Linked DNA regions of Homo sapiens. The protein of the gene in region 1 interacts with the protein of each later gene in a biochemical or structural test. Each region holds a gene or a part of one and is shown in the gene's direction. Other genes may lie near its edges.

Region 1 (7,231 bases):
TTTCTCAATCAGTAAGGACATAATAAATGTGGTGTTTAAGAAATATTGATATTTAGGATAGGTCAGCTAGAGGCTGTTGCTAAGTATATAATGCTGAGGTCACTAGAACTCAGCAGACAAACTTGGGGAAAGTTTAATAATTTGATGATAATATTAGAGTTTTTCTCTGCACTGGTAAGAAATTTCAGTTAGGTTATTGTGTCAGGTCCCTTTGTGAGAAAAACAGTCTCATTTTGGCTTGTCAAGTTACAGTGGCTTGAGAGTAGATAAGGATAGTATATTATGATTCTTCTTTATTTCCTCTTCTGTTTTTTTTTTTTGTTTTGTTTTTTTGTTTTTTTTTTGAGGCAGAGTCTCGCTCTTGTCATCCAGGCTGGAGTGCAGTGGTGTGATCTCAGCTCACTGCAACCTCCGCCTCTTGGGTTCAAGCAATTCTCTGCCTCAGCCTCCCAAGTAGCTGGGATTACAGGTGGCCGCCACCATACCTGGCTAATTTTTCTATTTTTAGTAGAGGGAGGGTTTCACCATTTTGGCCAGGCTGGTATTGAATTCCCGACCTTGTGATCCACCTGCCTTGGCCTCCTGAAGTGTTGGGATTACAGGCGTGAGCCACCGCACCTGGCCCCCTGCATTTTTTTTTTTAAGACAGTGTCTCATTCTGTTGCCCAGGCTGTATTACAGTGGTGCCATCATAACTCACTGAAGCCTTAACCTCCTGGCTCAAGTGATCCTCCCATCTCATCCTCCTGAGTAGTTGAGGCTACAGGCACGAACCAGAATGCCAGCTTTTTTTTTTTTCTCTTAACTACTTTTTCTCCTTTTTTTTTTTTTTTAATTTAAATTCTGGGGAACAGGGGCAGAACATGCAGGTTTGTTACAGAGGTATACACGTGCCATGGTGGTTTGCTACACCCATCAACCTGTCATCTACATTACGTATTTCTCCTAATGCTATCCCTCCCCTAGCCCCCAACCCCTGACAGGCCCCAGTGTGTGATGTTCCCCTCCCTGTGTCCATGTGTTCTCACTGTTCAACTCCCACTTATAAGTGAGAACATGAGGTGTTTGGTTTTCTGTTCTTGTGATAGTTTGCTGAGAATGACGGTTTCCAGCATCATCCATGTTCCTGCAAAGGACATGAACTCATCCTAATTTATGGCTGCATAGTATTCCATGGTGTATATTTGCCACATTTTCTTTATGCAGTCTATCACTGATGGCCATTTGGGTTGGTTCCAAGTCTTTGCTATTGTGAACAGTGCCACAATAAATATACATGTGCATGTGTCTTTATAGTAGAATGATTTATAATGCTTTGGGTATATACCCAGTAATGGGATTGCTGGGTCAAATGGTATTTCTAGTTCTAGATCCTTGAGGAATCGCCACACTGTCTTCCACAATGGTTGAACTAATTTATACTCCCACCAACAGTGTAAAAGCATTCCTATTTCTCCACATCCTCTCCAGCATCTGTTGTTTCCTGACTTTTTAATGATCACCATTCTACCTGGTGTGAGATGGTAGCTCATTGTGGTTTTGATTTGCATTTCCCTAATGACCAGTGATGATGAGCTTTTTTTCATGTTTGTTGGCTGCATAAATGTCTTCATTTGAGAAGTGTCTGTTCATATCCTTTGCCCACTTTTTGATGGACTTATTTTTTTCTTGTAAATCTGTTTAAGTTCTTTGTAGATTCTATATATTGGCCCTTTGTCAGATGGATAGATTGCAAAAATTTTCTCCCATTCTATAGGTTGCCTGTTCACTCTCATGGTAGTTTCTTTTGCTGTGCAGAAGCTCTTTAGTTTAATCAGATTCCATTTGTCAATTTTGGCTTTTGTTGCCATTGCTTTTGGTGTTTTAGTCATGAAGTCTTTGCCCATGCCTACATCCTGAATGGTATTGCCTAGGTTTTCTTCTAGGGTTTTTATGGTTTTAGGTCTTACGTTTAAGTCTTTAATCCATCTTGAGTTAATTTTTGTATAAGGTGTAAGGAAGGGATCCAGTTCCAGCTTTCTGCATATGGCTACCCAGTTTTCCCAACACCATTTATTAAATAAGGAATCCTTTCCCCATTGCTTGTTTTTGTCAGGTTTGTCAAAGATCAGATGGTTGTAGATATGTGGAGTTATTTCTGAGGCCTCTGTTCTGTTCCATTGATCTATATATCTGTTTTGGTACCAGTACTAGGCAATTTTTTTTACTGTAGCCTCGCAGTATAGTTTGAAGTCAGGTAGGTAGTGTGATGCCTCCAGCTTTGTTCCTTTTGCTTACGATTGCCTTGGCTACGTGGGCTCAATACCCCTGATGAACATTGATGCGAAAATACTCAATAAAATACTGGCAAACCGAATCCAGCAGCACATCAAAAAAGCTTATCCACCAAGATCAAGTCGGCTTCATCCCTGGGATGCAAGGCTGCTTCAACATATGCAAATCAATAAATGTAATCCATCACATAAACAGAACCAATGACAAAAACCACATGATTATCTCAATAGATGCAGAAAAGGCTTCGACAAAATTCAACAGCCCTTCATGCTAAAAACTCTCAATAAACTAGGCATTGATGGAATGTATCTCAAAATAATAAGAGCTATTTACGACAAACCCACAGCCAATATCATACTGAATGGGCGAAAACTGGAATGAAGGATTCTTTTTATTTTTTATTTTTTTTTATTTTGAGATGGAGTCTCGCTCTGTCCCCTAGGCTGGGGTGGAGTGCAGTGTCGCCATCTCGGTTCACTGCAAGCTCCAACTCCCGGGTTCACGCCATTCTCCTGCCTCAGCCTCCCGAGTAGCTGGGACTACAGGGGCCTGCCACCATGCCTGGCTAATTTTTTGTATTTTTTTTTTTTTAGTAGAGACAGGGTTTCACTGTGTTAGCCAAGATGGTCTTGATCTTCTGACCTCGTGATCCGCCCGCCTCCGCCTCCCAAAGTGCTGGGATCCATGCCCGGCCAAAAGCATTCCCTTTGAAAGCCGGCACAAGACAAAGATGCCCTCTCTCACCACTCCTATTCAACATAGTATTGGAAGTTCTGGCCAGGGCAATCAGGCAAGAGAAAGAAATAAAGGGTATTCAATTAGGAAAAGAGGAAGTCAAATTGTCTCTGTTTGCAGATGACATGATTGTATATTTAGAAAACCCCATAGTCTCAGCCCCAAATCTTCTTAAGCTGACAAGCAACTTCAGCAAAGTCTCAGGATACAAAATCAATGTGCAAAAATCACAAGCATTCCTATACACTAATAACAGACAAACAGAGAGCCAAATCATGAGTGAACTCCCATTCACAATTGCTACAAAGAGAATAAAAATACCTAGGAATACAACCTACAAGGGATGTGAAAAATCTTTTTTTTTTTTTTTTTTCAGTTTTATGTAGAGACTAGGTATCACTATGTTGTCCAAGCTGGTCTCAAAGTCTTGGGTTCAAGCCATCCTCCTGCCTCAGCCTCCCAAAGTGTTAGGATTACAGAAGTGAGCTTCGGCGCCCAGCCTGTATTACTTTCCTTTTTCTTTCTTTCTTTTTTTTTTTTGAAATGGAGTCTCCCTCTGTTGCCCAGGCTGGAGTGCAGCGATTTCTGCTCACTGCAGCCTCACCTCTTGGGCTCACGTGACCCTCCCACCTCAGCATCCCTAGCTGTTCAAATTTATTGTCCAACTCTTTTGAATCGTTTATCAACGCAAATCTGTCAATGCCCACTTATTTTTATTTATTTTTTTGAGGCGGAGTCTCGCTCTGTTGTCCAGGCTGGAGTGCAGTGGCGCAATCGCGGCTCATTGCCCCTCCGCCTCCCCGGTTCAAACGATTCTCGTGCCTCAGCCTCCCAAATAGCTGGGATTACAGGCGCGCGCCACCACGTCCGGCTAATTTTTGTATTTTTAGTAGAGACGGGGTTTCGCCATGTTGGCCAGGCTGGTTTCGAACTCCTGACCTCGGGTGATCCGATCGCCTCGGCCTCCCAAAGTGCTGGGATTACAGACGTGAGCCACCGCGCCCGGCCCTCATGAACTTATTCTTTAGCGTTTCATTTTGAGAGCGGGATTCACAAGGGAATTGCGGAAACAGCAGCGAGGCCCCGCGACCCCTCGGCCCACGTGCGCGCTGTCCCTCGGGTCGCCCCGCGCCCGCCGGGGGCGGAGTCCGCTGTGACGCGTGCAGGGCGGCGCGCTCCCGGAAGTGACGCGCGACGGTTCGTGCGTGCGTGCGGGCGGCTGCGTCGGGCTGCAGGAGAAGATGGCGGTCTCCACAGGTCGGTTCCCGGGCCGGGCTGCGTGATTTTCCGCTCCGACCCGGCTCTGCCCCTCCGTCTGCTGCTGGCGCCCGAGCGCTGACCGTGCGGGAGAAGCCCGAGTGCGCTGTCTCGAATGCCGCGCTCTCCGCAGAGCGTAGCCTGGGACCGGGTGGGACCGGCGCCGAGGCCCCGGCGGCCGTCGGGTTGGCGGGTCGTGCTCGCGCGTCGGCCGCGCGCCGGCGGGCTGGGGGCGGGGTGGCTCCCGCGCGGGCGCCCCCGTAGGTTCCGGCGGGCGCGGGTCCGAGTTGTAGGCTGAAGGCTCTACGGGAGGGAGGCGAGGAGGCCCAAGGTGGGCGGGTGTCAACCTCCGGCACCGAAGATGGGTCAGGCCAACCGGCACCGAAGATGGGTCAGGCCAAGAGGTGTCCTGGATCAGAGTAGGGGTCCCATTCCTTTGGACTCTCCTTGACATGGGTTGGGGAGTAGAGGACGATTGCTCCTTAAAATAAGAGCGAGAGGATCTTTCTTACCTGACTGAATACGTGTGATCTTTTTATTATTTATGAGGAAAACTGCAGTGCAAACAAAATAAAAGACCAGAGCAAGATGAAAGCTAATTGAAGAACAAGTGGTTTCTTAGATAAGCTGTTCAACTCCTCTTTCCTACTGAATACAATGTTTGGTTTCCTGTGAGCACACAAGTATTAACGTTGAGGTTTTAGACATTAGACCATTTCAGAAATGTTAAAAACGTTAAGCTTTAGTTTACATTTAAAAATGTTAACCCGTGTGATCTGCCTTTTTCTTTTCTTTTCTTTTTTTTTTTTTTTTTGAGTCAGAGGCTCACCCTGTTGCCCAGTTGGAATGCAGTGGTGTGATCTCGGCTCACTGCAACCTCCACCTCCCAGGTTCAAGTGATTCTCCTGCCTCAGCCTCCCAAGTAGCTGGGATTACAGGCGCGTGCCACCAGGCCCGGCTAATTTTTGTATTTTTAGTAGAGACGGGGTTTTGTCATGTTGGCCAGACTGGTCTCGAACTCCTGACCTCAGGTGATCCGCCCACTTCGGCCTCCCAGAGTGCTGGAATTACAGGTGTGAGCCACCGCGCTCGGCCTGATCTGCCTTTTCCTAGTCTTCGTTGAAACAAGAGTATAGAGCAGTGTGATTTAATAGTTTATGCCATCATTGCATAATAAAATGAATTTTCAAATCTATATGTACTGAAATGGAAGGCTTTGAATATATGTTGTAATTGTTGCTTTAGAGTAATACCTCAGGATACATTCTGCATACATTTTAATTAAGTGGTGTCTTTTACATCTTTATTACATATAGGTGTCATAGGTTTTAAGATCTTTAGCAGTTCTAGTGTTGGGGTAGTATACATACTTGGGTCAGCTAGCTAGTAAGGCAAGGATTGTTTTAAAAGTGGAATTTTAGTGTTATGACTTTACTGTGCTTGCTGAAATCTAATCTGTGCTCGTTAACGGGGCCATATCTTTATAACAGTTGTGCTTAGGACCTCTTATAGATTTTTGAAAATTTAGTAATAAAATAATGCATTTTAATTTAATACTTTTCATTTTCCTTTTGTGGGTTGCATTATTAAACACAATTTTTTCATAACACTATACATGAGTGTATGTTAATATTTTGAAAAGACCAAAGGTTAGATGATATTAATGGCAAATACTTTTTGTTAATCACTTTTAGTTGTTTTGGAAGTTGAATATAAATTATAAAGATTACTGATAAATTATTAGCATATTGTACATAGGGAGTCTGTATTTTTTTTTTTTTTTTGAGATGGAGTCTCGCTGCATTGCCCAGGCTGGAGTGCAGTGGCATGATCTTGGCTCACTGCACCCTCCTCACCTCAGGTGATCCACCCGCCTCAGCCTCCCAAAGTGCTGGATTACAGGGGTGAGCCACCGTTCCCATCTACTAGTTTTTTTTTTTTTTTTTTTTGAGACGCAGTCTTGCTCTGTCACCCAGGCTGGAGTGCAGTGGCGCGATCTCGGCTCACTGCAACCTCCGCCTCCCGGGCTCAAGCGATTCTCCTGCCTCAGTCTCCTGAGTAGCTGGGACAACAGGCGCGTGCCACCATGCCCAGCTAATTTTTTGTATATTTAGTAGAGACGGGGTTTCACCATATTGGCCAGGATGGTCTTGATCTCTTGACCTCGTGATCCGGCCTCCCAAATTGCTGGGATTACAGGTGTGAGCCACTGCGCCTGGGTTTGTTTGTTTTTTTTTTTTTTTGAGACTGAGTCTCTCGCTTCTTTGCCCAGGCTGGAGTGCAAGGGCATGATCTCGGCTCACTGCAACTTCCACCTCCCTGGTTCAAGCAATTCCTCTGCCTCAGCCTCTTGAGTAGCTGGGATTACAGGTGCATGCCACCACGCCCAGCAAATTTTTTTGTATATATATATTTTTTTTGTATTTTTTTTTTTTTTTTTAGTAGGGACAGGTTTTCATCATGTTGTCCAGACTGGTCTCAAACTCCTGACCCCAGGCAATCCGCCCACCTTGGCCTCCCAAAGTGCTGGGATTACAGGTGTGAGCCACAGTGCCCAGCCTATTAATTAGTTTTAATTTTACTATTAGCTATACTTTTGTTTGCTTTTTGGTAACATGGGAAGTAAATAGTACCTGTGTATTTGTGAAAGCAGCATGATACAGCTTAAAATTTAAAATTAGATGAGCTACATCGATGTAATGCACGTGTTTGTTTGAAACGGAGTCTCGCCTTGTTGCTCAGGCTGGAGTGCAATGGTGCGATCTCGGCTGACTGCAGCCTCTTCCTCCTGGGTTTAAGCAATTCTCCTGCCTCAGCATTCTGAGTAGCTGGGTTTACAGGCATGCACCACCACGCCCAGCTAATTTATTGTATATATATTTTTTCTAGTAGAGATGGGGTTTCACCATGTTGGCCAGGCTGGTCTCAAACTGCTAACCTCAGGTAATCCATCTGCTCCGGCCTC
Region 2 (6,919 bases), on another chromosome or scaffold:
TTTCCACCTCAACCTTCTGAGTAGCTGAGTAGCTGGGACTACAGGCATGAGCCACCAATACCCAGGTAATTTTTGTACTTTTTGTAGAGATGGGGTTTTGCCGTGTTGCTCAGGCTGGTCTGGAACAACTGAGCTCAAAGCGATCCGCCCACCTCAGCCTCCCAAAGTGCTGAGATTACAGGTGTGAGCAAAATAGTGATTTCTGAGCACAAATGGCTATGAAACATATAAGCTGTTTATCTTAAGTAATATACTCTTAATTAACATATAATCTAAGCTCAAGACACTTCTCAAACACTATTTCAGTGTATTAATATGAGTTTCAGTGGATTAAAACAAATTTTAAGAGTTCTGAAGTTTAAATCTATATAATTTAAATTTCAACATAGTGTCTCATTAATCTTTTTTTTTTTGAGACAGAGTCTTGCTCTGTCACCCAGGCTGGAGTGCAGTGGCGTGATCTCGGCTCACTGCAACCTCCGTCTCCCGGGTTCAAGCAATTCTCCTGCCTCAGCCTCCTGAGTAGCTGAGATTACAGGCATGTACCACCATATCCAGCCAATTTTTGTATTTTTAGTAGAGATGGGGCTTTGCCATGTTGGCCAGGCTGGGCTCGAACTCCTGGCCTCAGGTGATCCGCCTGCCTCGGCCTCCCAAAGTTCTGGGATTACAGATGTGAGCCACCTTGCCTGGCGTCATTAATCTTTTATAAAAATTTTTTTTTAATTAAATGGAGACAAGGTCTTCTATGTTGGCCAGGTGGTCTTGAACTCTTGGCCTCAAGCAATCCTCCTGCCTCAGCCTCCTAAAATGCTAGGATTACAGGCATGAGCTGCCATGCTCAGCCTCATTTAATCTTATTTGTATTAATTCACAACAAATCTCAATACTCTAACAAGAGTAAAAACATTTTAAATAAAATTTTTAAAAAAAGCTTATTTCCCTAGCTAAATTTTCAAATAATTGTTAATTTAGGAATAAAACCCAGAATATCTTTTTTCCCCCTTGCTGAATATTCATATTATCTTTATTTTAAATAGACTCAATTTCAAGAGATAAATTATCCTCTGTATCTTTTTTTTTTCTTTTTTTCTTTTTTGAGATGGAGTCTTGCTCTGTCGCCAGGCTGGAGTGCAGTGGCGTGATCTCGGCTCACTGTAACCTCCACCTACCAGGTTCAAGCGATTCTCCTGTCTCAGCCTCCCAAGTAGCTGGGATTACAAGCGTGCACCACCATGCCCAGCTAATTTTTGGTGTTTTTTTTGAGACGGAGTTTCATTCTTGTTGCCCAGGCTGGAGTGCAATGGCACGATCTCGGCTCACTGCAACCTCCGCCTCCCAGGTTCAAAGGATTCTCCTGCCTCAGCCTCCCTAGTAGATGGGATTACAGGTGCCTGCCACCACGCCCAGCTAATTTTTTTGTATTTTTAGTAGAGACGGGGTTTCACCATGTTGGCCAAGCTGGTCTTGAACTCCTGACCTTAGGAGAGCCACCCTCCTCAGCCTCCCAAAGTGCTGGGATTACAGGCGTGGGCCACAATGCTCTGCCAAGACCGAGTCTTGCTGTCATCCAGGCTGGAGTGCAGTGGTACAATCTTGGCTCACTGCAGCCTCTGCCTCTCAGGTTCAAGTGATTCTCCTGCCTCTGTCTCCTGAGTAGCTGGGACTATAGGCGCGCGCCACCACGCCGGGCTTTTTGTATTTTTGGTAGAGACGGGGTTTCACCATGTTGGCCAGAATAGTCTGCATCTCCTGACCTCGTGATCTGCCTGCCTCGGCCTCCCAAAGTGCTGGGATTACAAGCGTGAGCCACCGCTCCCGGCCTTATCCCCTGTATCTTACACTTCTAGTCTGACTGGGGAGTTGAAAACATATGACTTCTCACAGATTAGTTTTTTATTTTTTATTGTAAGCATAAGTGTTTTCTTCAAAGCTGCTCTTCTTTTTCTGTCAAATGCATCTTTATATCACTAAAATGAATTTGGGTTTGGGGAAGCGCCGCCATTTTTAACTTTTTTTTTTTTTTTTTTTTTTTTTTTGAGACAGAGTTTAGCTCTTTTTGCCCAGACTGGAGTGCAATGGCGTGATCTCGGCTCACTACAACCTCCACCTCCCAGGTTCAAGTGATTCTCCTGCCTCAGCCTCCCGAGTAGCTAGGACTATAGGTGCACGCCACCACACCTGGCTAATTTTTGTATTTTTAGTAGAGATGGGGTTTCTCCACGTTGGTCAGGCTCCGGACCTCAGGTGATCCGCCCCCCTCAGCCTCCTAAAATGTTGGGATTACAGGCGTGAGCCACTGCATCTATCTGTCCTTTAACGTATTTTTAATTGAAATATTGACGAGATAAAAATAAACAACGTAAAAATCATACTGCTTAAGGGAACCTTTAAGGAGCCTTACCAACTGTGGTATAACTATTAATAGTTCAAAGAAATTACATTATCTAGGTTACTTGCAATGGAAGTTGAGTTACTCGCTTCACCTAAACAAGGAAGTTGGCATGTTTGCCTAGCAACAGTCGCTAAAACCTTCTGTTGTGGAAGGTTCCCTAGGAGTGAGAAGAAGGGAGGAGGAGGAAAAGCAGGAGGAGCAGATTAATCTGTTTTTCCTAGCAGGGTACAGAGGCCTGGTCTGAGAAGGGAAAGGCTTTAAGAGATCCCTTTAGATTGGCACATGCTAACCTAAATCCCCCTGTGGTAGCTAGAAATTCACTCTCTGTAGGACTGGGGTTACTATTTAGTAGGCTGAAAAGACGATTACAGATTAAACCCAGTTCAGAGGCAGCAAATTCCAATCAGTGGAAAGACAACAATAGGTCTTCTAAACAGAAGCTGAGATCTCAGTAGCAGGAGGGTGCTAACAACTAAAAAGAATTCTTCTCTGCCAAGAGTTTAGGAAGGTGTGTGATATTTCTTAAAAATAATACAAAAACACTATCTGTGATAGCGATTCCAATGTATCAAGTTAAAGGCAGAAGTGCTTCTCTTGGGGTACTGTGATGTAAACAGTGAAGAAAGGACAGAAAAACATAATCTCTGCTCTCTTGGTCAAATCCTGAAGCAAAAAAGGTGATAGCGCCGAGTAGAGGTATTAAATGGTTGTTTATTTGGGGACTCTCTCTCTCCTCTATTCTAGATGATTTATTTTGAAATTAGTACTGTATGGTGTTACAATAATCCCATTTCTTCCCCTTCTCAAAAGCGAGGGTTTGGCTAAAATGAATTGTCTGAAGGGACCTCCCATTCCCCAAAACCAAAACGGCACCTTTTCCACAAGGGACAAGAAACTTTTAAAGAGTCGCAAGGTTAGATTTCAGGAGCCCTTCTATGGGCCATATCTTTTCCTGTCGTCCCCAAATAGCTCTTATTGTTCACACAGCCCAGGAGAGACGTTTTGGAGTAGCGTGTCCGGGCCTTTTGGGCTGTTTCACAGCCTTAGGAGGCTGAACTCCCAGAGGGGTGACGAGGACAAAGCTGATGAGATCCAGAACCTGGATAATATGGAAGAAGAAAAATGGGGTGGGGGACAAGACGTGAAAAAGAAACAAGAGTTGGGGGACAACGGCTGAGAAAGCCGAAAGAGTAGACGTAGTGTGGGGTTCGATGGAAACGAAAGAAATTCCCCCAATTTACTCTCGCCATCTGGCCACTGGCCCGCTGAGCCCAAAGGCGCCGGTGCGGGAGGGCAGACCGGACCGAGGGACCGGTTCATCTGCTCAGGGCGTGTGAGACTTTCGGTCGCGGCGGAGAGCGTCGCCGGTCTCCCTCCGGGCGTTGGTGGCCGGTGACTCAGAGCTTTGCTCCCGCGCCCGCCCCTCCCCTCCGCCCGCCCCGCCTCCTGAGGGAGGATCCTCGCCCTCGTCTCCGCCCCAGTCTCCGGGGCGGGCCGGAGCCTGAGGAAGAGGAAGGGGACGAGGACAACGAGCGACTGGGCGGCGGAGGACGAGGAGGAGGAAGAGGAGGCCGAGCAACAAGATGGCCCCTGCTGCAGGAGCAGCCTCAGCAGCAGCAGGTGGGAGGCCGGAGGCGGTGCTGGCGGTGGCGGCGGCAGCCGTGGCCCGGCGGCCTGGGACAGAATCAGAGTCAACGGTGGCCTCGGCGGCGGCGGCGGCTGCCGCGGCGGTGGCGACGGCCGCGGGGACTCGGAGCTGAGAGGAGCTGCTGCTCGGACCAGCGCGGTGAGCGAGCGGCGGGCGGCGACTTGGGGAGCGGGGCTGCCGCGGCCGGGGCCTCAGTCGGGAACAATAGGCAGCTGTGGTCGGGAAGGGTTTGTCCTCGCCCGCCCTCTGCTCCTCCGCGGCAGCGGCAGCCCGGCCGGCCCCAGGCTCCTCAGGGCCCCCGCCGGCTGTTCTGGGGCTTGTCAGTGGCCGGCGTCCTTTAGGCCTCAGGCCTCTGCATGCCGCCTGTAGGGCCTGTCGGGGTAGGTAGGCCGAGAGGAGGACGAAGGGAGGCTCGGACGAGAGGGAGGGGGCGAAAGGGCTACCTGGCTCCTGTGGTACTCCCAGGGCCTGGGCCAGGCGGGGAATGCGCACGGGAACTGCTTTTTGGACCCCTAGTCTGTGGGGGTGGGGGAGGGCGAAGGCGTCTGTAAACAGGCGCCGCCTCGGCCTCCCAGCACCTCAGGGCTGCTTCCTCCCCCAGCCCCTGAAGCGCTCCCCTTCTTTGGCCAAGTGGATTTCACGGTGTCTGTTTCCCTGAAGTCCCTGGAGATCTAGCCTGGTAGTCTTCTCCCTGCTGGCGATGGGAAAATTGTGTGTGTGCAGGTGTCTTTAAAAAAAAAAAACAAAAAACTTAAATGCAACAAAAACATATAAAATGTGGTTATCGGTAAAGGATGGAGTGGTAAGGGATGCGCCTCTCTAAACATCTCTAAGTATCAGTTCTATAAACATCAGTTATGCCCGCATCCCAGGTGAGAGTGGATTGAAACAAGGGCTCTTTTGGAACAGTAATAACACAACTCTTGACATACCAGAATAGCCTATGAAACTGGAAACAAACACTGGCAACGCGGAGACAAACTGTAATGTTTAAAGAGGACTTTTATTCCAGCTAGGCGTTTTGAATTACTAACATGCAGTATAAGAAGCAACATTAACTAGCATAAAGTGGACCTCAGGAAGCACTTCGAAAGGAGACAGGTGGTTCATCTCCGGCCATAGAGCTTCTTGTGCCTTGTCTCGTGTTTCAGTAATTTTTCCTGAAATTGTTCAAGACCAGTCTTTTCTCTGAGTTTGAAATTTGATTTCGTTTTTGTTTTGTTTTGCGACGGAGTCTTGCTCTGTCACCCAGGCTGGATTGCAGTGGCACAATCTCGGCTCACTACAGCCTCCACCTCCCGGATTCAAGCGATTCTCCTGCCTCACCATCCGGAGTAGCTGGGATTACAGGCGCCCGCCACCATGCCCGGCTGATTTTTGTATTTTTAGTAGAGACGGGGTTTCACCATGTTGGCCAGGCTGGTCTGGAACTCCTGACCTCAAGTCATCTGCCCTCCTCCGCCTCCCAAAGTGCTTGGATTACAGGCGTGAGCCACCTCGCTCAGCCTTAAACTTAATTTTTCAAGGCTTCTACCACATTTTCTTACAAGTGAGGGAAAAGGTAGATTTATTTCTAAAGTACTTTCTACCTAGGTATGCAGAAATTTATATTAAAATCGCTTGGATACATCCAAGGAGATTGCTTTTCACTTGTTAACATTCAACTGCAAGGCCTAAGGGTTATAGGTTGTGTTCTTTTCAGCACTGACCTGTGCTGAAAAGATGCCAGTTAATATCTTTCACCTCTTCTAAGGGTAAATTTCTAAGTAGAATTGGTCCAAGTCTGTTCTAATTAAAAACATTATAAGCAGCACTAGTCTAGTTCTTAGTTCTTCCACAACAATTGACACTGAATAGATTAGCAATTGAATAAACATAAAGGTTGAATTTTCTTGTTTAGGATTTGAAGTATAGTGAATGAATATCAATACTGACCTTCATTTTATGCTTAGCATAAATAATGTTGGAGATGTTTTGATTTTTTGAATGATGGAGAAATAACAACTTTCTATGGCTCCTGATGTTGTGACTTTTTTGCAGATATTTCAGAAAGGACACCGTTTTTCAGGTGCTCAAATCTGTGATTTTTTTTTTTTTTCTGTGCTAATTTTGTTAGGTCAGCACAGATTCCAAGTAAAGTCTGTGTTATAATGATACTTAAATTTATGTATGGCCCTAAACCTATTAGAACAATTGTAGTAATTTATAGGTTGTAAGTTTTAAGTGGTTCATGTGCTGTGTTATGAAAACAATCTCACCGTGTTATGTCAAGGGCAGATTTACCTCATATTTAATATCATTTTCCTGAAAATAAATATTTTTAAGTGGTAAGGTTTTGTATTTCAGATTGGTTATTGACCCAGCAATTTATGGGCTTAGTCTGGGTCCGTATTTCTGTTCAATAGGAAAAAAATTTAGGGAATTGTTTTTATTTATTTTGTGTCAAAACAGTTTTAAGTTTTGACACAAACTCAACTGTCCCTTCTTCAGTATCAATACTTATTACTTAAGTTCACATTTTCTCAGGTAATAAAAATTTACTTCTAAGAAGTTTTGGAACCAGAGCTTAAGAATTAGATTTATATTTTCTTGGTAATATTAAAAGTTAATATATGCTTGATTTATTTGAAGAAATAAAAAAGGGTAATTTGTACACAACGCCTTTCAGAACATATTTGTTGAATGAATAAAAATATTTAAGCTTCCTCATTATGCTGCAGTATTAGTTCTGTTGTCCTCATTTTTTCATATGAAGAATGTGAAGCTAAGAGTAGCTATGTAACCAGCAAAAAGATCACATAATTAATAGGTAAAAGAGCTTACTCAGACTCAGATCTTGTGACACAAATTAGATTCTTTGCCACTACCACATGTGT
Region 3 (7,026 bases), on another chromosome or scaffold:
GTTTTTCATTCCTATTTGATGAACATGAGCCCATGGCTGCTTATTTTGTATGTGTTACCTGCCACCATCAAGTAATCATTCAAAGTTAATTTGAAGATTTAAAGGGTTTGCTGAGATCTAGTCCCGCAATATCACGACATTTTTATGGTGTTTTACAAAATTATTTCCCTCATATGGTTTTATTTGCGTTGGGTAGGCTTTATTTATTATCCCTATTTTACCAGTGATTATAAAGCTAGTCTGATACCAAAGCATATATACATTTAGGTAAGACTCAGAGAGAAAACATGGTTCTTACACTGCATTAAGCAGCTGGTTTGTCTCTTAATATAGTAGTTAAATATACTCTATCAGGTTCCACAGAAATGGTGCCTTTGCTCGATAGGCAAGTGCTAACGGTCTTGCCTTTTACAAGGCCACTTTATCATCAAGGTAGGAGGAGGAGGTACTCTGAACCTGCCTGACCTATGGGAAGGCCCTGGTTGTGGTTAGAGACCTTGATTGAAATTAATGGTGTGCGTACTCCAACCTCTCAGGTTTTTCTTTTATACTTCAAATATCTGGAAGTTGTGAAAACCTGCTGCCCTGGTGGAGTATCAAACCAGGCTGGTGAGTGAAAGCGGTCATCCCAAAATGGAGTAAGCTGAGTGTTAAGGGCAGAAAACCTTTTACAGTTATAGTAAGTAATTAACTTTTTAGATCACTTCACAACTTTTGGAGTGCTAAAATGCCATATTTGGGACTATGAGAAATTCCATTATAAAAAGCTGAACCATTAGAGCTAGGAAATAATCTCTGTTAGATATTGGCATATGGTGTTCAATTTTGGGTCTCTCATACTTGAGAGGATAATTAAAATGATTAAAAGGTTGAAAAACAGGTCTTATCATTATAAGTTTTAAAAAGGGGGGAAAGATTTTAGCCTAGAGAAAGAAAAGCTAAGAGATAACTTCATTATCATCTTCAAATACAAGAATAGTTTTGCCAGGGGGATTTTTATTAATTATTCTTCATGAACTTCAAAGATTTAAGAGGAAATGGTCTTAAATTGAAGGAGGAGCAATTTTGATGAATACGAGAAAGAATTTTTTGATCATCAAAGTGGGGAAATGTTTGAATGACTGCCCAAGAGAGTGTTGAATTTCTGACTGTTTCAGTTGTCTATTGTGTGACAAATTACCCGAAGACTTTTGGTGGCATAACATGACAACCATTTTATTGCCTATGATTTTGTGGGTTAGTAATTCAGGAAAGGAGGACATATTTTTTTTTGTCCCATATGATGCTGATTGAGCTGGAGGATCCAAGAAGGCTGCACATGTCTGTACCTTTGGAGCTAGCTGTTGGCTGGGATATCTTGGTTCTCTGTGAGTTCTCTTTCTTGGTCTCTCATCACTTATAAACCTATATCGAGTGGCCGAGCGCAGTGGCTCATGCCTGTAATCTCAGCACTTTGGGAGGCCGAGGTGAGTGGATCACCTGAGGTCGGGAGTTCCAGACCAGCCTGACCAACATGGTGAAACCCCGTCTCTACTAAAAATACAAAAATTAGCTGGGTATGGTGGTGGGCACCTGTAATCCCACCTACTTGGGAGGCCGAGGCAGGAGAATTGCTTGAACATGGGAGGCGGAGGTTGCAGTGAGCCAAGATTGTGCCATTGCACTCCAACCTGGGTGACAGAGCGAGACCGTCTCAAAAAAAAAAAAAAAAAAAAATTCTAGCTCGAGCTTCTTTTACATGGTGGCTGGGCCATAATGGAAGCTGCAGGATCTCATAAGACCTAGGCCTGGCAGTCATACATCATCACTTTTGCCCCATTCTTTTTGTCAGAGTAAGTCACAATTATAGCCCAGATACAAGAGGAGGGGACATTGACTTCACCTCTAAAGGATAGAGGGTAAAAATCACATTGCAAAAGGGCATGCAATGTGATTGGGATTATTACTACCAACTTTATTTTTTGAAACAGAGTCTCGCTCTGTCACCCAGGCTGGAGTGCAGTGGCGCAATCTCGGCTCACTGCAACCTTTGCCTCCCGGGTTCAAGTGATTCTCTTGCCTCAGCCTCCTGAGTAGCTGGGATTACAGTTGCTTGCCACCACGCCTGGCTAATTTTTGTATTTTTAGTAGATACGGGGTTTCACCATGTTGGTCAGGCTGGTCTTGAACTCCTGACCTTATGATCTGCCCGCCTTGGCCTCCCAAAGTGCTGGGATTACAGGCGTGAGCCACCGCACCTGGCCTACCACCAATTTTAGATACAATTTACCACACTGACCTTAGAGATTTTTCATGAAAGAATAATCAATATATGTTTATTAAATGGGTAGTTTGGGCATATGATTTACAAATTTGGCTGCATATAGAGTCATCTGGGAGCTTTTTACAAGCATAAGCTCCTAGGTACCAGACCAGTGACTCAGTGTCTCCTGGGGGTGTTGTGTTGGCACATAAGAGACACTCTATGTCCTTTCTTTCAGGTAACTATCAGTAAAATGAGTATGGTGGGGGGGGATAGATAGATATAATATGTAAGGCAAGATGATATGTACATTGAGATAGATCTCATCTCTCCTGCTTCTAGGACTTGATTGAATCCTATCTAGCATGCTCTTCTTTCCAGTCTGCCTAGTGTAAATTATATTTCATTAAATCAGCCCATCATCAGAACAGTGTTTCTTGATGCCTCTCATTTTTTTCTCATGTTTTCTGGCATTTTTCCTTCATTACTTTTTTTTTAGTTCATAATTCAATATTTATATGATTGTTTGATGTATAATAGACAAAAATACATCTGCTTTGCTTTCGAGTATCTAACATAGTGTCTGCCTCATAAAAGGCACTCAGTAAGTACTTGTTGAATGAATAAGTGGTTGATTGAATGCATGATTGAATGAAGTGATATTTGAATTTAGCTTTAAAGGTGATTGGAATTTTGGACAGGTAGAGCAAATGAATGGGAAATTTATTGTTCTGAAGTGGAAACTGGATCATATTGCTCATGTAATTTCAGAAAACTGGAGAAACTGGTTTGGGAAAATGGAAGAGTTGGTTTTATATCTAGTATGCTAAGTTTGAGGTATGGAAATTTAGCAGGCATTTAGAAATGAAGCACTGATCTGAAGGGTGAGATTGATTCCAGATATTCACTTTTGGGAGTTACCTGACTGGAGAATGTGAAATCTGTTCCTTTCACAAATACCTGGTAAGCTCCTACTGTGTGCCAGACAGCTATGTTATAGGGAAGGTGAACTGCAGTCTGAGAAGGAGCCAGTCTTGTGAAAAGAGCTAGGGAGAATGTTTCAGCCAGAAAAGGAACCCAAGTTTGTAGGCCCTGGGGCAATAAATAATTTATAATTTTTGAGGAATTGAAGGAAGGTGACCGAAGGACAGAGCAAGGTGAGTGAAGTGGGAGAGCTGCATGAGGTAAAGTGGAAAAGGCAAGCAGAGCCCACATCACATGGGGACTTTGTGGGCTAGATAGTGAGTCTAGCCTTCACTCAAAAGTGTGGTGGGGCTGGGCATGGTGGCTCACACCTGTAATCCTAGCACTTTGGGAGGCTGAGGCAGGTGGATCACCTGAGGTCAGGAGTTTGAGACCAGCCTGGTCAACGTGGTGAAACCCCATCTCTACTAAAAATATAAAAAATTTTAGCCAGGCATGGTGGCTTATGCCTGTAATCCGTGCTACTCGGGAGGCTGAGGCAGGAGAATTGTTGGAACCCGGGAGGTGGATGTTGCAGTGAGCCGAGGTTGCACCACTGTACTCCAGCCTGGGTAACAAAAGTGAAAACTCTGTCTCAAAAAAAAAGAAAAAGAAAAAAAAAAAGGGTGGTGGGACACCATTGAAGGCTTAAAACAGAAAGTGACAAGCAAAGATTCTTTTTCTAAATAAAAGGTTACCCTGGCTACTCTGTAGAGAATAGAGAGTCACAAAGAAGGGACCAGTAAGGAAGTGTTTGTCTCCCTTCTTGAGAAGGATCATCGCAGATAGGGCAGGATATGGCAGTGGACATAGAACGGGATAGTTGCAGGATGCATTTAAAAAGTAGAACCAGGCTGGGCATGGTGGCTCACGCCTGTAATCCCAGCACTTTGGGAGGCTGAAGTGGGCAGATCACCTGAGGTCAGGAGTTTGAGACCAGCCTGACCAACATGGAGAAATCCCGTCTCTACTAAAAATACAAAATTAGCCGGGCGTGGTGGTGCATGCCTGTAATCCCAGCTACTCAGAAGGCTGAGGCAGGAGAATCATTTGAACCCAGGAGGCGGAGGTTGTGGTGAGCCGAGATCATGCCACTGCATTCCAGCCTGGGCAACAGAGCAAAACTTTGTCTCAAAAAAAAAAAAAAAAAAAAGTAGAAGTAAAATTCACTAGAGAAGGAAAGGAAGAAGGAAGAGTATGGAGTACAGAACCCTAGGGCCTATGTAGGGGGCAAAAGAAGGAACCAGGGAAGGAAAATAAGGGAGCAAGAGTGGTCATTGATGTCAAAGGTAAGTCAGGCTACCACGCTTGCAGTGGGAGCCAGTGTGGGAGAAGGAGTCTGTAAGGGGAATTCAAGTGTATCCAGAGTAAGTGTGCTGTCTGATGTGTGGCAAGTCAATACCCAAGACCTGGGGGCGGGGTTTATTTGTTGGGCTGCAGAATGAGGAGATGAGAGGGAACTGCAAATCCGTCCTCCTGAGGAGTTTGGAGCTAGGGTTTTTAAGGATTTTGGAGTGGGCTGGAATGTGGAGATTGTTGGGTGGTCAGAGAGAGAAAGGTGAAGTAATGGGACCCGGAGATGAAAAAACTGTATTATGCTGATTTTATTTCTCTCTGAGGGTCTTCAAACTGGTTGGCATCAGCTGTTTTACCAGAATTTGGGATCTGAAAAATATCTCAAGCAATTCTTAAAAAAAAAGCCTTATGCTTCTAATGTCAGAGATACTATCTTTAGAAACAATAGGGATGCAAATGGTCAGTATCTAGCGCTGTGTGACTTTCAGTTACAAGGAAATGTGTCAAAATCCAGCCTGATTAATGTTTTTTTTTTGTTTGTTTGTTTGTTTGTTTTTTTTTGAGATGGAGTTTTGCTCTTGTGGCCCAGGCTGGAGTGCAATGGCATGATCTCGGCTCACTGCAACCTCTGCCTCCTGGGTTCAAGTGATTCTCCTGCCTCAGCCTCCTGAGTAGCTAGACTACAGGTGTGTGCCACCACACCTGGCTAATTTTGTATTTTTAGTAGAGATGGGTTTTCACCGTTTTGGCCAGGCTGGTCTCAAACTCCTGACCTCAGGTGATCCGCCCACCTTGGCCTCCCAAAGTGCTGGGATTACAGGTGAGCCATCGCACCTGGCCTAATGCTTAATTAAAGTTATATTTCTGTCCATAGTTCTTGGTAACCCTCTGAAGACAGCTTCATAATGAAGAATTTGGGTAGGTTTTGGGTGCATGGGGCTTCAGGGAGTCATGAAGGTTGAGGACATAGGAAAGAATCACACATTTATCCATCAGAAGATCATTGGTGACCATTGGCCGGGCGCTGTGGCTCACGCCTGTAATCCCAGCACTTTGGGAGGCCGAGGCAAGTGGATCACGAGGTCAGGAGATCGAGACCATCTTGGCTAACACGGTGAAACCCCGTGTCTACTAAAAATACAAAAAAATTGGCCAGGCGTGCTGGTGGGCACCCGTAGTCCCAGCTACTCAGGAGGCTGAGGCAGGAGAATGGCGTGAACCCGGGAGGTGGAGCTTGCAGTGAGCCAAAATCGCGCCACTGCACTCCAGCCTGGGCAACAAAGCAAGACTCAATCTCAAAAAAAAAAAAAAAGCTGTTGGATCGGTGTTTACTAAGCACCTACTCTAAGCCTGTCACTGTGTTAGTGTTAAGGATTTGTGTGAATGACCTCTTTTAGGTACTTCATTTTACAGATGAGAAAAATGACGCTTAGGGAATTAATCACCTTAACAGGTCACACAGAAAGAAGACTATGAGTTCTGTCTGACCCAGGCCCCATGCTCCTAAACCTTGCATGACACTGCTCTTTGGAAAGCCCTATCAGGACATCAGCTAGAGAGGAATGAAAGGTTTTTAGAGCCCAGTGATGGCTTACCCCAGCTGTATGAATTTGTTAGCAACCCAGTTAAATAAAGTCTTCTGATTTTTCTATAGTAATCTGGCAGTTTAGGAATGGAGAGGTGGGGGAGGGAGGGGAAGATAAAAGATAGAGTAAGAGTTCAGTAAATTAGAAAGGGGATTATTTTGTTGTTCATAAGTGTAATGATTGGATTTTCATGCACATGTATGAGATGTGCCTCCATCAAGCCTTGTTACTACAAAGTCAGTGCATTACCCATCTGATGTGGGAAAAATAAATCAGAAAGAGGCCTCAGCTTGTGGGAATGGTGGAATGCAATGGCTTGTGTTGTTAAGCAAAATTGTGTTTTACAGTAAATATTTATTGTGGTTCTTTTGATGCAAGTTATATTGGGATATGGAGGAAAATGCAAAAATGGATAAGATGGTGTATTTGACCTCTACACGGTTAGAGAGGAAGGTAAAGTGCTTCACTATAGTGCTTGATTGAAGGGTATGACAGGGGTGGAAGGTGGAGAAGTATGGGAAAGTATTATACAAGTTAGCTTGTAGAGCGAGGGTGGCATTAGGTAGGGCTGGCCAGGGTGGTGCCAATCTAGCTTCTCAGGATGACCCCTCAGGATTTTGGTCACTGTGTCGTCAGTCTAGTCTTGGGTCACAAAATGTATTTTGTGGAGAACCTGGAAATAATTAGTCTTGAAGACAGGATTGTATTCAGACTTGAGTGATTGAGCTCAGAATGGAATGCCAATTTATTATTTTAGAATGAAGGATTCCTTTTCCGTTAACGGGATTCTGGAATTTGTTAGGATAATTGCTTTTCAATATCAAGAGATCTGGCAATCAAATTTAATAATATCAAGCTTGCTTGGTGAGCATGGATTTATAAGATAGAATGGTTTGTGGGGGAGAATATAGTTACAAAAAAGATTATTGTTTCCCATAA

What was found.
Region 2: the proteins of UBE2V2 (region 1) and RC3H1 form a complex in vitro, tested with the Homo sapiens proteins (one study listed by BioGRID).
Region 3: the proteins of UBE2V2 (region 1) and RFFL form a complex in vitro, tested with the Homo sapiens proteins (one study listed by BioGRID).

Annotation. Positions count from the first base shown.
Region 1 is NC_000008.11:48,004,205-48,011,435, forward strand, and holds the start of UBE2V2 (ubiquitin-conjugating enzyme E2 variant 2), read left to right. Parts: upstream 1-4,226; 5' UTR 4,227-4,250; coding exon 4,251-4,266; intron 4,267-7,231. UniProt on the Homo sapiens protein: Has no ubiquitin ligase activity on its own. The UBE2V2/UBE2N heterodimer catalyzes the synthesis of non-canonical poly-ubiquitin chains that are linked through 'Lys-63'. This type of poly-ubiquitination does not lead to protein degradation by the proteasome.
Region 2 is NC_000001.11:174,019,358-174,026,276, reverse strand, and holds the start of RC3H1 (roquin-1), read left to right. Parts: upstream 1-3,919; 5' UTR 3,920-4,181; intron 4,182-6,919. UniProt on the Homo sapiens protein: Post-transcriptional repressor of mRNAs containing a conserved stem loop motif, called constitutive decay element (CDE), which is often located in the 3'-UTR, as in HMGXB3, ICOS, IER3, NFKBID, NFKBIZ, PPP1R10, TNF, TNFRSF4 and in many more mRNAs.
Region 3 is NC_000017.11:35,053,708-35,060,733, reverse strand, and holds part of RFFL (E3 ubiquitin-protein ligase rififylin), read left to right. Parts: intron 1-6,239; exon of another isoform or gene 6,240-6,346; intron 6,347-7,026.